Homo sapiens: one gene and its partner. The protein of the gene in region 2 binds, or shares a complex with, the protein of the main gene of each other region. Each region holds a gene or a part of one and is shown on either strand. Other genes may lie near its edges.

Region 1 (7,025 bases), on a different chromosome or scaffold from region 2:
TACATAGAGACCGAGACAAAGGGGGATTCACATCTTGTCAACCCTGTTTACTTCAAAGGAATAACAGAGCATTAACTAGGTACCAAGTGCTCAGGACTTCAAGTATACTGTTTTATTTAATACTCATGACAATCCTTTGACCCCTTACTTGTGACTGGCAAGTTACCCAACTTTTGTTTCATTTTCCTCATCTGTAAAAACCGGAGAGTGATACACACTCCCTGGAGAATGACAGGGAAAACAGTACCAAGAACTTTAACCTAACAAGTCAGAAATCAATGAGACCCCTTTTGACAATTCCCACCTTGCCCTTTAGACATTCCGAGATATGCAGCTTTATTTAATAAATGACCCCACCTTGGGCCTCAGCTGACTAGACCAGAGGCAGACACTCTCCCAGGCTGGAAAGGCCAGGTGGAGTGAGCTGTTCTGTGCAGAATGATCTCCCTAACAGTGTTTTTACACATTCTGTTCCACTTGGAATTGGATTCAGAGTGTTCTCAGCCTCTGGTCATCAAAAAACCTGAAGACACATACCTTCAGGGAGCTAGGGTCAGCTCTCCTCTGCTGAGTGCATGGGGAAGTGACAAAAGAGAAAAGAGGGGGGAAAATCCAGCTGCTGAGAGATGTAGGGTACAAGAAGCTTTTGTAACTGTAAAGAGGGAGGGAGGTAGCTACGTTGGTCTATTTTCCAGTTCCTGGTTCCAACTATACCTAAAGCTTTAACTGCACTTTCTATCCTTGCAGTAATATGACAAAGGCCCCCAGATCTTAATCATAAACTTTTCATTTTCTATAATGCAGTCTCTACAAAGTAGTGCCTAAAACATTCCAGCACTCTACCCTACCTTTTACCCAGCTAGCTCTAAGTCTTCCTTCAGGTCCCAGCTTAAACACCACTTCCTCCCGGAAACCCTTCATGACTACTCAGAATATCTTATATCATCCAGTGGCACTCCACACCTCACCATACTCAGTAAATGTTATTACTGCCCTGTTGGACTGTAAACACCAAAGAGTAAGAACAACTTTTGTTCACTACTTTGTTCCTACTGCCTAGCACATAATCCGGTACGTGTTTAATAATATTAAATGAATGAAAATCAAGAAACTGGTAGAGGTAACTAGAAGGAATGGGAAGAAATCAATACTGCTTCCTGATAAAAATTAAGTTGCTAGATGACAGATCCTTTGGAGATAAAGAAAAAACAAAAACAAAAAACAAAGTTACTTTAACTCTAATCCTTTCTAGCCTCTTCTTCAGGTCTGTCTGCAATGGCATAATCATTTTATACTTTAGGGCTAATCCATTCAGGAACCCAGGCTGTAGGAAGTACGTTTCTAGGTAACTCGGTATAACAGAGAAAAGCCTATAGTAGTTAAAAGAAAAAAGGTCACAGGATTTGGGGTCTGCATAAATCTCAATTTACATCTCAGTTCTGCAATATACTTACTGGCTGTGAACCCTGAACGAGTTACCTGACACCCAGTTCCCTTATGTGTAAAGTGCAAAATATAATACCTCAAAGACAAGGATGACGGTCAGGCGCGGTGGCTCACACCTGTAATCCCAGCACTCTGGGAGGCTGAGGCGAATGGATCACGAGGTCAGGAGTTCAAGACCAGCCTGGGCAACAGGGTGAAAGCCCATCTCTACTAAAAACTACAAAAAAAAAAAAAAACTTAGCCAGGTACAGTGGCAGGCACCTGTAATCCTAGCTACTCAGGAGGCTGAGACAGGAGAACTGCTTGAACCTGGGGGCAGAGGTTGCAGTGAGCCAAGATCGCGCCACTGCACTCCAGCCTGGGCAACAGAGTGAGACTCTGTCTCAAAAAAAAAAAAAAAAAAAAAGACAAGAATGAGAATGAAGCTTAAACCAGCAAGGCAGGCTTGCAACTAACATTAGTCAGTTGATCATGGCATATTATCCATGCAGACACCTGCTATCCAGCTCCTACTGGCCATAGGTTCAAACCCCAGGGCCTGCCTTGAGTCTGAGAATCTGGGAGGGACCTTGGAGACCATCTATCCTGTGGGTTGCCCAACATCATTTTCAAAGCAATCAAATCCTTTTTCCAAATGGGATCTTGCCCTGCTAACCCTAATAGTTACTACCTATGTGAACTGAAGATGATAATGACTAAAAGGAAATTAAGAAAAAGAAAAAAGACTAAGGGCAGAGGAAGAAGGGAAACGGGAGGGGAAGGAGGTAGATAAGAGAAGAGCAAAGAATAGAAAAAACAGGGATTAGGGGAGAGAATGCTGTATGTGAAGTTTCCCTATTTGGGGTGAGGCCTGAAGCCCCTAAGAGAGGAGGAGATTTGAAAACCACAGACAGAGCCCAGTCCTTTCATGTTATAGCAGGGGAAATAGAAACACATAAATTTTGTTCAGCTGCCTATAGCTTTCTCCTCCTGTGGTTCTGCTCAGTTTCCAGAAAGCCTGGGTAACGTCTGAATCCTCCTGGAATCTCTCTTCTTCCTTCTGGTACGGTGTGGGCCATTTCAAAGCTCAGGCAGGTGGCCTTTCCTAGAGGGAGCAGAGACAGCGCAGCTACTGGATGAGCTCCTAGGCACCTTTCAGTGTGGGAGCCTCAAGAAGTGAAAGAAAAAAAGCAAATCTAAAGGGGAGCAAAATAGCATCTCAGGATTAGGCAAGAGGGTGGGTGGAGTAGGCCGGAGGCAAGGAGCTCTAGATGTTTGTTGGGGAATGAGGTGTTTTTCAATTAATAGGTATATAAATTGTGAGCAAGGTGAGGAATAAATTACATACAGTTTTGGGGAAAAGTCAACTTGAATTTACACAAATCAGATTATGGGAATGGTGTAATGGTTATAGCTAACTACCAGGAATACATCATTAGGGATGCTATTAATATAAAAATTAATTTTGTTTTGACTTATCCTTTTACTCTAAACTCTGCTCAGAAACACTAGATTCTTCTGTTACTCATGTAAGCTGCTGTCCTTGCATCTTTGAGCTCCAAAAGTGTAGAGGAGACTTCTTGATTAAAAAAGTTAAGTAAACAATGAGCAAGCAAAATTAAGAATCTCAATATCTCTGTCTCCAGGTCTAGAGTTTTTATATATGATATATGTTATTGCTGTTCCTGCCTTTCAAACAGGTGGTACAAACACCCAGCAGAGATCCATGAAGAGAGTGCATTAACAGGAAGCAATAGGGCAAAGTTCATAGAGATGAGCTTTAGAGAAAAGCGGGACTTAAATAGAGCCTGATGTTTCTTGGGGCAGGCTGGGGTGCTGTACTATGGGCATCTTGGCAGGATGATTCTCCAGTGGAGGGAGTGTACCGTGCAATCCAGACCATTTAGCATGTCTGCCCTTGACATGCCTACTGACGGCCAATAACACCCCCTAATCAACGTGACAACACAACAAAAAGCCGCCCCCCTATACATTTCCAAATGCCTCTGTAGCAGGGAGGTAAAATCACCCCCACTGAGTACCACGAGATAAAGTAGGCACAATGCGGCCAGGTGCAATGGCTCACGCCTGTAATCCCAGCACTTTGGGAGGCCGAGGCAGGTGGATCACCTGAGGTCAGGAGTTTGAGACCAGCCTGGACAACATGGCGAAATCCTGTCTCTACTAAAAATACAAAAATTAGCCAGGCATGGTAGCACACACCTGTAATCCCAGCCACTCAGGAGGCTGAGGCAGAATTGCTTGAACCCAGGAGGCAAGGTTGCAGTGAGCCTCCAAGCAAAACTCTGTCTCAAAAAAAAAGTAAGTAAGTAGGCAAAATGGGCAGAAAGCATAAGAGATAAAGTGGGAGTGGAACTGGCAGACAGAAACAGGGCCATCCTTTAATGACTCCGTCACCCACAAGATCAAGTCCAAAGTCCTTACCAAATAATGCCCTTCAGGATTTGGCCCTGCCTACCCCCAGCTGTCTCAACTCCCACCTTCTTACTAAGGCACCCTACACTCCAGCCTTCCCAAGTAATTTGTGGTTTTCCTGACCTGATGCACTGTGTTCACGGTCTGTGCCTTTACATGCACACTTCGCTTTGCCTAGAAGGCATTTCTCAAGGCAAACTCCTACTCACACATCAACACCTAGCTCAGAAGTCTGGGAAGCCAAAGAAAGACAGCCCCAAGTCACTCAGCTCTTCTCTTCCTCTCAGCACTTCACAAACTCCTGGGTAACACTGGTATCTTCTCTGTATTATTCCCCAATTCCATCCCATTATTTGGATGAAGAGTTCAATAAACATTTTCTGAGTAAATAACTCTACATGAAAGGTTTTAAAGGCTAAAAAGTGATACAAGCAAAAGCAGACAACAGATATTTCTTGTTACTGAAATAATCTATTTTCTCAACTCTGATCTTTGGTGGAGCACTACTTAGGAACCAGAAAAACTGGGGTTGCTTCATCACTTCCTAGCTGTGTGTCATTGGGCAAGTTAACTAACCTCTGTGTGCCTCAAGTTTCTTCACTTGTGGGGTAAAAAACAAACAGAAGTTACCACTTTTGCTGTACAGTTATATGGCTTAGCATTAATGTATGTAAAATACAAAACAAGAGTGCTGAAAAAGTGGTAGTTCTACTAGTCTGCTATAATCACAATAACCTTAACAAGACAGGAGGACATTGTACCATCAGGAATGTGATCACAATGAAATTTTAGTTGAAACCATCCCCCTCTTTTTTCTTTTATTCATTCAGCTTTCCCAAGTTGAACATCCCCGCTTTAAAAAAAAAAAAAAAGAGGCCAGGCACAGTGGTTCACACTGTAATCCTAGCACTTTGGGAGGCTGAAGCAGGGGGATCACCTGAGGTCAGGAGTTTGAGACCAGCCTGGCCAACATGGCAATACCCCGTCTCTACTAAAAATAAAAAAATTAGCCGGGTGTGGTGGCACACACCTGTAATCCTAGCTACTCGGGAGGCTGAGGCAAGAGAATCACTTGAACCCAGGAGGCGGAGGTTGCAGTGAGCCGAGATTGTGCAACTGCACTCCAGCCTGGGCGACAGAACAAGACTCTGTCTCAAAAAAAAAAAGAGCTGAAAGTCAACAAATATAATGGCTTGTCAGCTGCATTCTGTTTCCCTCCTATAGTACTCAATACCAATCCCTTAATGAGTACCATCTCCCTTGGCTCCTTTGATAACGTGCACTCCCAGTTCTTTGGTCTCTCTGGCCACATTTCCTCTGTCCTCTTCCATAACTTGACCTTTATTGACACAGTAAAGGCAGGCACTCCTTTGGCTTAGTTCTCAGATGTCTTATCCACTCTTAAGGCTTCAATTAATATCTCTATGAAGATGACCCCATGAGCTCTCTTGTCGCATTCAGAAACAGCATTTCAAACTCAATTAAACCAAAATAGACACTTGCTATCTTAGTCTAAGATGACCAAGCATACTAAGAGTGTTTCAATCTCTCCTCCTCTCCCTCCTCCCCGTCTACACTGTTCCCTTATACATCTGACCAGTCATCAGTTTCCTCTTCTTTGCCAGAGTTACCTGGTTGGTCCTCTGTTCTACTTCAGTGGTTCTTAATGTTTCCAGGATAATGGACTCATTTGAAAATCTATCAAATGCTATGTATTTTTTAACCAAAAAGATAAATATAGAAAACATATAATTACAATTTCTTTTTTTTTTTTTTTTGAGACCCAGTCTTGCTCTGTCACCCAGGCTGGAGTACAGTGGCGCGATCTTGGCTCACTGCAAGCTCTGCCTCCCGGGTTCACACCATTCTCCTGCCTCAGCCTCCCCAGCAGCTGAGACTACAGGCGCACACCGCCACGGCCGGCTACTTTTTTTTTTTGTATTTTTAGTAGAGATAGGGTTTCACCATGTTAGCCAGGATGGTCTCGATCTCCTAACCTCGTGATCCGCCCACCTGGGCCTCCCAAAGTGCTGGGATTATAGGCGTGAGCCACCGCGCCTGGCCATGATTGCAATTTCACCTAACCAATGACCCAGATAAGAATCTGTGCTCATCCACTCAAGATTTTAACTACCATTTACACAAATTTTCATCTCCAGCTCCTGCTCCCCTCTTACAAATTTTAAGATGGTTTCTGGATATAGCCTGAATGGCCTACAGGCATTACAAACTTAAGTTCAAACCAGAACTATTTCCCCCTGACAAATCTGCTCTAACAGTATTCCTTTACTTGGATAATGGCACCACCATCTCCCAGGCTCCCAACCTAGAGGCCTCAGAATGAACAACCGCCCATAGCCAATCAACCAGCAAGCCTTGTTCTATCTCAGAAATCCCTCCAAATCCAAATCCCACCTCTCTTGGTCTCTTACCCTTTAAGGTCTCATAATCCTTTGATTCCACTCAGACTTGCCATGATTAAAAGTCTTTTTACCACTCTTCCCACAAGGGTCCCTGTTACTATTTCTGTCAATACAAAACTCCTCACCTCCATCTGCTACCTTCCGCTGCCACTTTATTACTGCACCTCTAGGTGGTTAGGCTTTCCTAATTTATTCCTCCACTCCGGTTCTTCTTCCTTCATTCCCACTAGTGTTGATTTGTCTTCCCAAAAAATTTCAAAATTGACCATGTATGACTGCCTCTTTCAAAAAAAGGCCGGGCACGGTGACTAAAGCCTGTAATCACAGCACTTTGGGAGGCTGAAGTCAGGGGGACCACCTGAGGTCAGGAGTTTGAGACCATCTTGGCCAACATGGCAAAACGCTGTCTCTACAAAAATACAAAAAAAAAATTAGCTGAGCATGGTGGCACGCGCCTGTAGTCCCAGCTACTCAGGAGGCTGAGGCAGGAGAATCGCTTGAACCTAGGAGGCAGAGGTTGCAGTGAGCCGAGGTCATGCCACTGCACTACAGCCTAGGCAACAAGAGTGAGACTCCACCTCAAAAAAAAAAATAAACAAATAAATAAATAAATAAGATGCTTCCTCCACTGAACAAATATACAGTCAAACTTAGTTTTGCCTTTGGAGTCCTCTACAGTTTGCCACCTAAGTACATTTCCAAGATTAGATTCCACAGCTCAAGCTGTCACTTGTTCCTATT
Region 2 (7,025 bases):
AGAAGGAGCAAGAATCACAACAGCAGCAATAATAATGTTTGCAGATATGTACCCTGGGCCAGGCCCTGTTCTCAATCCTTTTTTTTTTTTTTAAGACGGAGTTTTCACTCTCGTCACCCAGGCTGGAGTGCAATGGCGCAATCTGGGCTCACTGCAACCTCCGCCTCCCGGGTTCAAGCGATTCTCCTGCCTCAGCCTCCCGAGTAGCTGGGATTACAGGCATGCGCCTCCATGCGTGGCTAATTTTGTATTTTTAGCAGAGGTGGGGTTTCTCCATGTTGGTCAGGCTGGTCTCGAACTCCCGACCTCAGGTGATCCGCCCACCTCGGCCTCCCAAAGTGCTGGGATTACAGGCGTAAGCCACCGCGTCCAGCCTCAATCCTTTATATTCACTCATTTCTCACAACAATCCCATGAAGTTGGTACTGTGATGACCATTTTACAAGTGAGGAAACTAAGGCACAGAGAAGTTGAATATCTTACCTAAGATATTCAACTTAGCTACTTGCACCAAGCCCCTTTCCCTGTCTTCCTCTTGCATGGGAAATGCCCAGCCAAGGCTTGCAGTGAAGGAAGCACCACCAGGAGGGCTCCCAGAGAGATGGCTTTGAGAAAGTCAGATGGAGACAGGGCAACGGCCAGCAAGAGAGCAGTGGAGGCGGGGAGGGAGGACACTGTGCTAGGAGGGGGTGACCCTGCAAACTGGCAGACCCGGAGCAAGCACCTTCTATTTTTCGGAGGCAGGCATGAGGCCCCGGAGCCTCTCCCTCCCTCCCCTGCTCTCCCTACAGGGAAGCTACTCCCAGCTTGAGGCTTTAGCTCAGTGAGCACTCGGGCCCTGTCTCCTGCTAACCCTCCTGGAGTGTCCTCTGCCTGCATGGGCGGATCAAGGTGCTATTAGCGCTATTCCAGGCCAGGGGGAGGAGTAGCCCTTGTTCTTGGCCTAATTCTAATCAGCCCTGCAGCCACCAGAAAAGGGAAAAATTCCTTTGCCTGAGATTCCCCTGGTCCCCAGGGTACCTTCTGTCCATGACCAGGCTGGCATGAGCAGAGCGAGAGTCTCTTCTCCTTTCCTCACAAGCCAGCTTCTTCATCCATGTTTGGGTTTCATTTAGAGAAATCCTTCCCCCTTAGAGGCAGAGGCCAAATGCCTCGTGGCTGAGCGGAATCTGAGTCCTAGTCCCACTTCACAGCTATGTGATATCTGGCAAGTTGCTCATGTGAATCCCATATTCACCATTAGAAAACAAATTCTTCTTCCTCTACATCTCTTTTTCCATCCCTAGTGGCATAATCTTGTTCTAAACCTGTACTGATCTCAAGGATAGAATACTGTATCTATTAGAATATTATATCTAATATTGTATCTTCCCATTTGGTCTCTGCTGTTCCGTTCCCTTTCTTCTCTAGTCCATCCTATACAGCACCACTCAGTTAATCTTCCCAAACTATTGTTTTGATCATGTCACTCTCCTGCTCAAAAACATTATACAGCTTCCTACTGTCTGCGTATAAAATACTTCAATAGGGGCCAGACATGGTGGCTCACACATGTAATCTCAGCACTTTGGGAGGTTGAGGTGGGAGAATTGCTTGAAGTCAGAAATTCAAGACCAGCTTGGGCAACAAAGTGAAACCCAATCTCTACAAAAAACGTAAATAAATAAATAAATAAGCAAGCCAGGTGTGGTGGCATTTGCCTATAGTCCCAGCTATGTCAAAGGCTGAGACAAAAGTATCACTTGAGCCCAAGAGTTAGAGGTTACAGTGAGCTATGATCGCACCACTGCACTCCAGCCTAGGCAACAGAATGAGACCCTGTCTCTAAAAACAACAACAAAAACAACAACTTCAGTGGGTGTAAGGCCACCTGCTATACACAAGGTGCTATGACTGTGATGAGCACAGGAACTCTCCTCTTTCTGACCCTGCTTGAGTCTGTGTTAGTTGGTCACCTTCTGACCTCTGACCTCTGCTGATTTTTATTTCCTAGATCCCCAGAGCCGTGTCTGTCTAGGCCGGGCACAGAGCCAGGAGGACGGAGATTACATCAATGCCAACTACATCCGAGTGAGTGGCCTGGCTGCAGTGGTGGGCGGGGAATGGGGGAATTCTCAGACGTCTGAGAATATCTTCCAGCCATGGCTGGTGGATCAGGTGCCTGCATTTCCTACCCTCCCTGCTCCAGCTCACTGCTGTCATAGCCCTACCAAGCTGGGCTGGTACTGAACATGCCCCAAAACACCAACCTAAAAAACGGAGCAGATGTTGAAAAATATCTGGAGAGACCACCAAGTCTCCCTAACCTCCACTATCAGTCCTCCCATGCCACCCTCTAAACTTAGCAGGAAGTTAGCATTGTTGAACCCAATCTCCAGCTGCTTAAGAGCTCACAGCTCCCGAGAACTGCATAGGTGATGCCAGCACTAATGGGACCTCCCCGCCAACTTACCTTAACTGCCCCTCAGATAGCCCCTCTTATATGAAGATGGTTGATTGACGTCAAGCTATAGGAAGCTCCAGGCCAGGTGGGTGTTCCACGCCAGCTTCTCGCTGCTGTGGGCCCTAAGGAGATGTAAAAGCAGCGCTCTCTAGTGACTCAATGTGGGTAAGACATCAGTCAGGGGCGCAGGGAGGCGAAAAGCTCTTAGCTAGGGAAGCCATGGGGAAACATGATCTTACATTTGCCGGCCAATACCGGATCAACTGCAGTCTGGATTTCACCATCTTGAGAAGCAGGAAGCTGAGGATCCTGAAGGTGAGAAAATCAGGTTAGGGAGAGTGTGCTACATTTTGCTACTACTTTCATAGAAAAGTAGTAACCTGTAAATGTGAAACTGTCACTGAACAAATATTAAACACTGTTTAGGTATTTTGTGCTAGAAGAAAGCAGCAGGGGAGGAAGGGAATAAACATTTATAGAGCACTTGCTATCGGCTAGACTCTCAATATATCTTACTGAATTTAATCCACTCTACATTCCTACAAGATAGATATTATTATGCCCAATTTACAGATGATACCACTGAGGCTTACGGAGGCTAGGTAACTGGCTTATAGTGGTACAGCCAGGAAACAGCAGAACAGGGATCTGATCCTCATTCCAGAACCCGTATCCTTTCCATCATGTGGCTTCTGAGTGTGCGTGTTCGTGCATGTGTACGTCTACACGTGTGGTTCACAGCTTCAGGCTGACCCCAGCACCTGAGGCATCTAGGATCTCCCCAGAGCTCTGCTCTCACTGCTCCCCACCCCTTCCCCTGTGCTTCCACCTTCCAGGGCTATGACGGGAAGGAGAAGGTCTACATTGCCACCCAGGGCCCCATGCCCAACACTGTGTCGGACTTCTGGGAGATGGTGTGGCAAGAGGAAGTGTCCCTCATTGTCATGCTCACTCAGCTCCGAGAGGGCAAGGAGGTAGGAGGCAGAGCCACAGTTCATGATGAACCCAGAAAGTGCTATGCCCACCCCACCCCCACCCCACACACAGGGCAGCTCAGAACCAGAGGTTTCCCTGGGAGCCAGCCCCAGCTCATACCTCTCAGAAAGTTCCCTGAGATATAGCCCTGGGAGGCTGTCTATGGCCAAAATACGGGATAGGGTGAGCACTCTGCTTGCAGGTATCAAGCTCAGAAGAGCCAGGCTCCCTGTTGCTGACCTCCCATCCAGTAGGGGTGGAGGATGGGGAGGAGATACCAGCCCCTCTCTGCTGCCCTGTCACCTGCTCCAGCTGACCCTCTTCTGACTCCCAGCTCCCTCCCTCCTAGAAATGTGTCCACTACTGGCCCACAGAAGAGGAAACCTATGGACCCTTCCAGATCCGCATCCAGGACATGAAAGAGTGCCCAGAATACACTGTGCGGCAGCTCACCATCCAGGTACCACCCCCCCGGAGCCAGGCCCAGTGGGAAGTTGGGCCGCCCACAGCATCTCTGGGACTCAGGCTGGCTCTTCACTAGGAGCCAAGGGTTTGCTCTTCTAAACCATCTTAAACCCACATCTATAGCAGAAAGAGAAACTTGAGCACTGTCCTCAGCCTCTAGTCTAATAGGGCAGAGCCAATAAGCCAAATAGGACTACCGGGAAGTACTCACCCATCTGTGTAAATGGTCAGGCGGGGACAGGCAGGATCCAGGAGCAGGGCCAAGGGAAGGAGAGGAGGTTAAAGGAGATGTGGAAGGCCAGGTGTGGCGGCTCATGCCTGTAATCCCAACACTTTGGGAGGCTGAGGGGGGCGGATCACTTGAGGTCAGGAGTTCCAGACCAGCCTGGCCAACATGGTGAAACCTTGTCTGTACTAAAAATTACAGCTGTTTGGAAGGCTAAGACAGGAGAATCACTTGAACCCAGGAGGCAGAGGTTGCAGTGAGCCAAGATTGTGCTACTGCACTCCAGCCTGGGTGACGGAGTGAGACTGTCTGTCTCAAAAAAAAACAAACAAAATAAAACAAAAAAAGAGAAAGAGATGTGGAATAACATGTACACAAGGGCTTTTAAAATGCCTTCTATTATTTTATGGTGTTTTATATTTTTGAAAGCATTCCTCTATCAACTCATTCTCCTCCAAATATCCTGGCAAGTAAACCAGTAAGATATCACTGTTCCCATTTTCCAGGTGAAGAAAATGAGATCAAGGGACTTGCCCAAAGTCATGTGCTTATGGGAAGCAGAGCCAGGGCTTGAATTTGGGTCTCTCCCCTCTCCCAGGACAATGCTCCTTCCCGGGATTTTGAAGGGGGAAGTGGTGGAGAACAATGAGCACGAAAATTGCAACCTAGCTTGCTTTGAGTAGATGACCCCCCCACAGGGTAATTCCAGCCCTTGCCCTCCTCAGGCACCAGAGAAGAAGGTAGACAGTGCCCTCCACCCTGACCTTGGTTCTCATGCCTTGTCTCCAATCCAGTACCAGGAAGAGCGCCGGTCAGTAAAGCACATCCTCTTTTCGGCCTGGCCAGACCATCAGACACCAGAATCAGCTGGGCCCCTGCTGCGCCTAGTGGCAGAGGTGGAGGAGAGCCCGGAGACAGCCGCCCACCCCGGGCCTATCGTAGTCCACTGCAGGTGCGTGGCCCTCCCTTCACTGCAGCCTGTGGACTGTGCTCCCCTCCCCTGCCCCCTGGGTCTCTCCTGGGGAAGGGTCTGAGCAGAAAAGCATCAGGCAAGCCTAGTCCTTACTCAGACATGACTCGCAAGGCCATTCAGCAAGGGCTCTGTTCTTTTTACCTCCTTCACGCAGAACCCAGACATCTGGGCTGGACACCCAGGCCCCATCCATAGAGGGGATGGAATATCAGGAAGATCCCAGTCAGCTGCAGGAGGACATAAACAGGATTCCAGCTGTTGGGGAACTCATTTACTTATTCAACAAATATGTATTGAAAATCCTATTATTGGCCGGGCACGGTGGTTCACACCTATAATCCCAGCACTTTGGGACGCCAGGGCTGGCAGATCACCTGAGGTCAGGAGTTTGAGACCAGCCTGGCCAACATGGTGAAAACCTGTCTCTACTAAAAAATACAAAAATTAGCCAGGCGTGGTAGCACACACTTGTAATCCCAGCTACTTGGGAGGCTGAGGCAGGAGAATTGCTCAAACTCTGGAGGCAGTGAGCCGAGATCACACCACTGCACTCCAGCCTGGGTGACAGAGCGAGACTCCATCTCAAAAAAGGAAAACCTATTTTTGTCAGGCACGGTGTTAGCTGCTAAGGAGACAGCTATGAACCAAGCAGTTTGGTTTCTTCCCAGACAGTTTTATAGGCTGGTGGGAAAGAAGGCAGATTAGGCTGGGTGCAGTGGCTCATGCTTATAATCTCAGCACTTTGGGAGGCTGAGGCGGGAGGATCACCTGAGGTCGGGAGTTCAAGACCAGCCTGACCAACATGGAGAAACCCTGTCTCTACTAAAAATACAAAATTAGCCACACATGGTGGCGCATGCCTGTAATCCCAGTTACTCGGGAGGCTGAGGCAGGAGAATTGCTTGAACCCAGGAGGTGGAGGTTGTGGTGAGCTGAGATCGCACCATGGCATTCCAGGTTGGGCAACAAGAGCAAAACTCTGTCTCAAAAAAAAATTAAATACCACGCAATGTGATGAGAGCTGTGATGGGGATATTATGGGGACCATAGAACCAAGTCTCCTAAACCAGACTTTGACCAGAGAAAGTTTTCCAAGAGAAAGGCCATCTAAGCCAAGCTAAGACCTGAAAGGTGAATTAGCCAAGTGAAGAGAGGGAAGGGAACACGTTCCAGGCAAGTGGAAGAGCACATGCTAAGGCCCAGAGAAGAAATGTGAAAATGGATACACTGCTGGGAGCAGGGTTACAGGTTAGGCCCAGAGGTTGTGTGTGGGGTAATGATGAGAGATGGGTTTGGAAGGCCAGTGAAGGTCAGATGATGAGGGGACTTGGAGGACTGGCTAAGACACTTGGATTTGCCATTTTAAAAGAACACTTTGGCTATAGAGTGAAAAATGGATTGGGCCAGAGTGAGGGGGTGTCGTAGGGGACAAGACTAAAGAAAGGGACCATTTGGGAGTGCATATCCTAAATAAAACAGAGCACAGAGGCAAAAGGCATGACACAGGGGCCTCCCAGCCCACCCACAGGTAGCACTGGGACATGTGCAGGGAGGTCATTAGGGGCTCACGCAAGAGGAAGGGGAGGCCTAGGGGGTTTTGAAATAAAGAGAGGGCACGATAGAGAAAGCAGAACAGAGTGGAGAGAAGACTGTGGGAGGGCGCCAAGGTGGGAAACAGAGGGGCCGGGCGTGGGCTGCGTGGAAGATGAGTCTGAGCTGAGAGGAAGTCAAGGTTAGATAAGGAGGGCTCGAGGGTCAGCACACCCACAAGTGGGAAACTGTCTGTTGGAAACCACTGTAGACTCAGCAGAAGGGAGATCGTCAAAATGTCCACAGGGACCAAAAGGTGGCCTGCAACAGGCTTACAGTAAGGCTGGTAAGAAATGTAAACTCCTCCCATGCCAATTAAAACCTGCCTCCAGCAGGGCCCCCAAGGGGACTGG

The links. The genes of interacting proteins can lie anywhere in the genome.
Region 1: the proteins of PTPN7 (region 2) and MAPK1 are in contact, whole or in part, in a crystal structure (PDB 3D42), measured with the Homo sapiens proteins. Residues at the interface, in NP_001351807.1 of Homo sapiens: Arg124, Tyr125, Lys126, Ile128, Asp257, His258, Ser292, Ala293, Gly294, Ile295, Gly296, Arg297, Gln335; in NP_002736.3 of Homo sapiens: Thr185, Glu186, Tyr187, Val188.

The regions. Positions count from the first base shown.
Region 1 is NC_000022.11:21,857,646-21,864,670, forward strand, and holds part of MAPK1 (mitogen-activated protein kinase 1), read right to left. Parts: intron 1-7,025. UniProt on the Homo sapiens protein: Serine/threonine kinase which acts as an essential component of the MAP kinase signal transduction pathway. MAPK1/ERK2 and MAPK3/ERK1 are the 2 MAPKs which play an important role in the MAPK/ERK cascade.
Region 2 is NC_000001.11:202,150,578-202,157,602, reverse strand, and holds part of PTPN7 (tyrosine-protein phosphatase non-receptor type 7), read left to right. Parts: intron 1-1,993; coding exon 1,994-2,070; intron 2,071-3,279; coding exon 3,280-3,417; intron 3,418-3,752; coding exon of another isoform or gene 3,753-3,767; coding exon 3,768-3,878; intron 3,879-4,903; coding exon 4,904-5,061; intron 5,062-7,025. UniProt on the Homo sapiens protein: Protein phosphatase that acts preferentially on tyrosine-phosphorylated MAPK1. Plays a role in the regulation of T and B-lymphocyte development and signal transduction.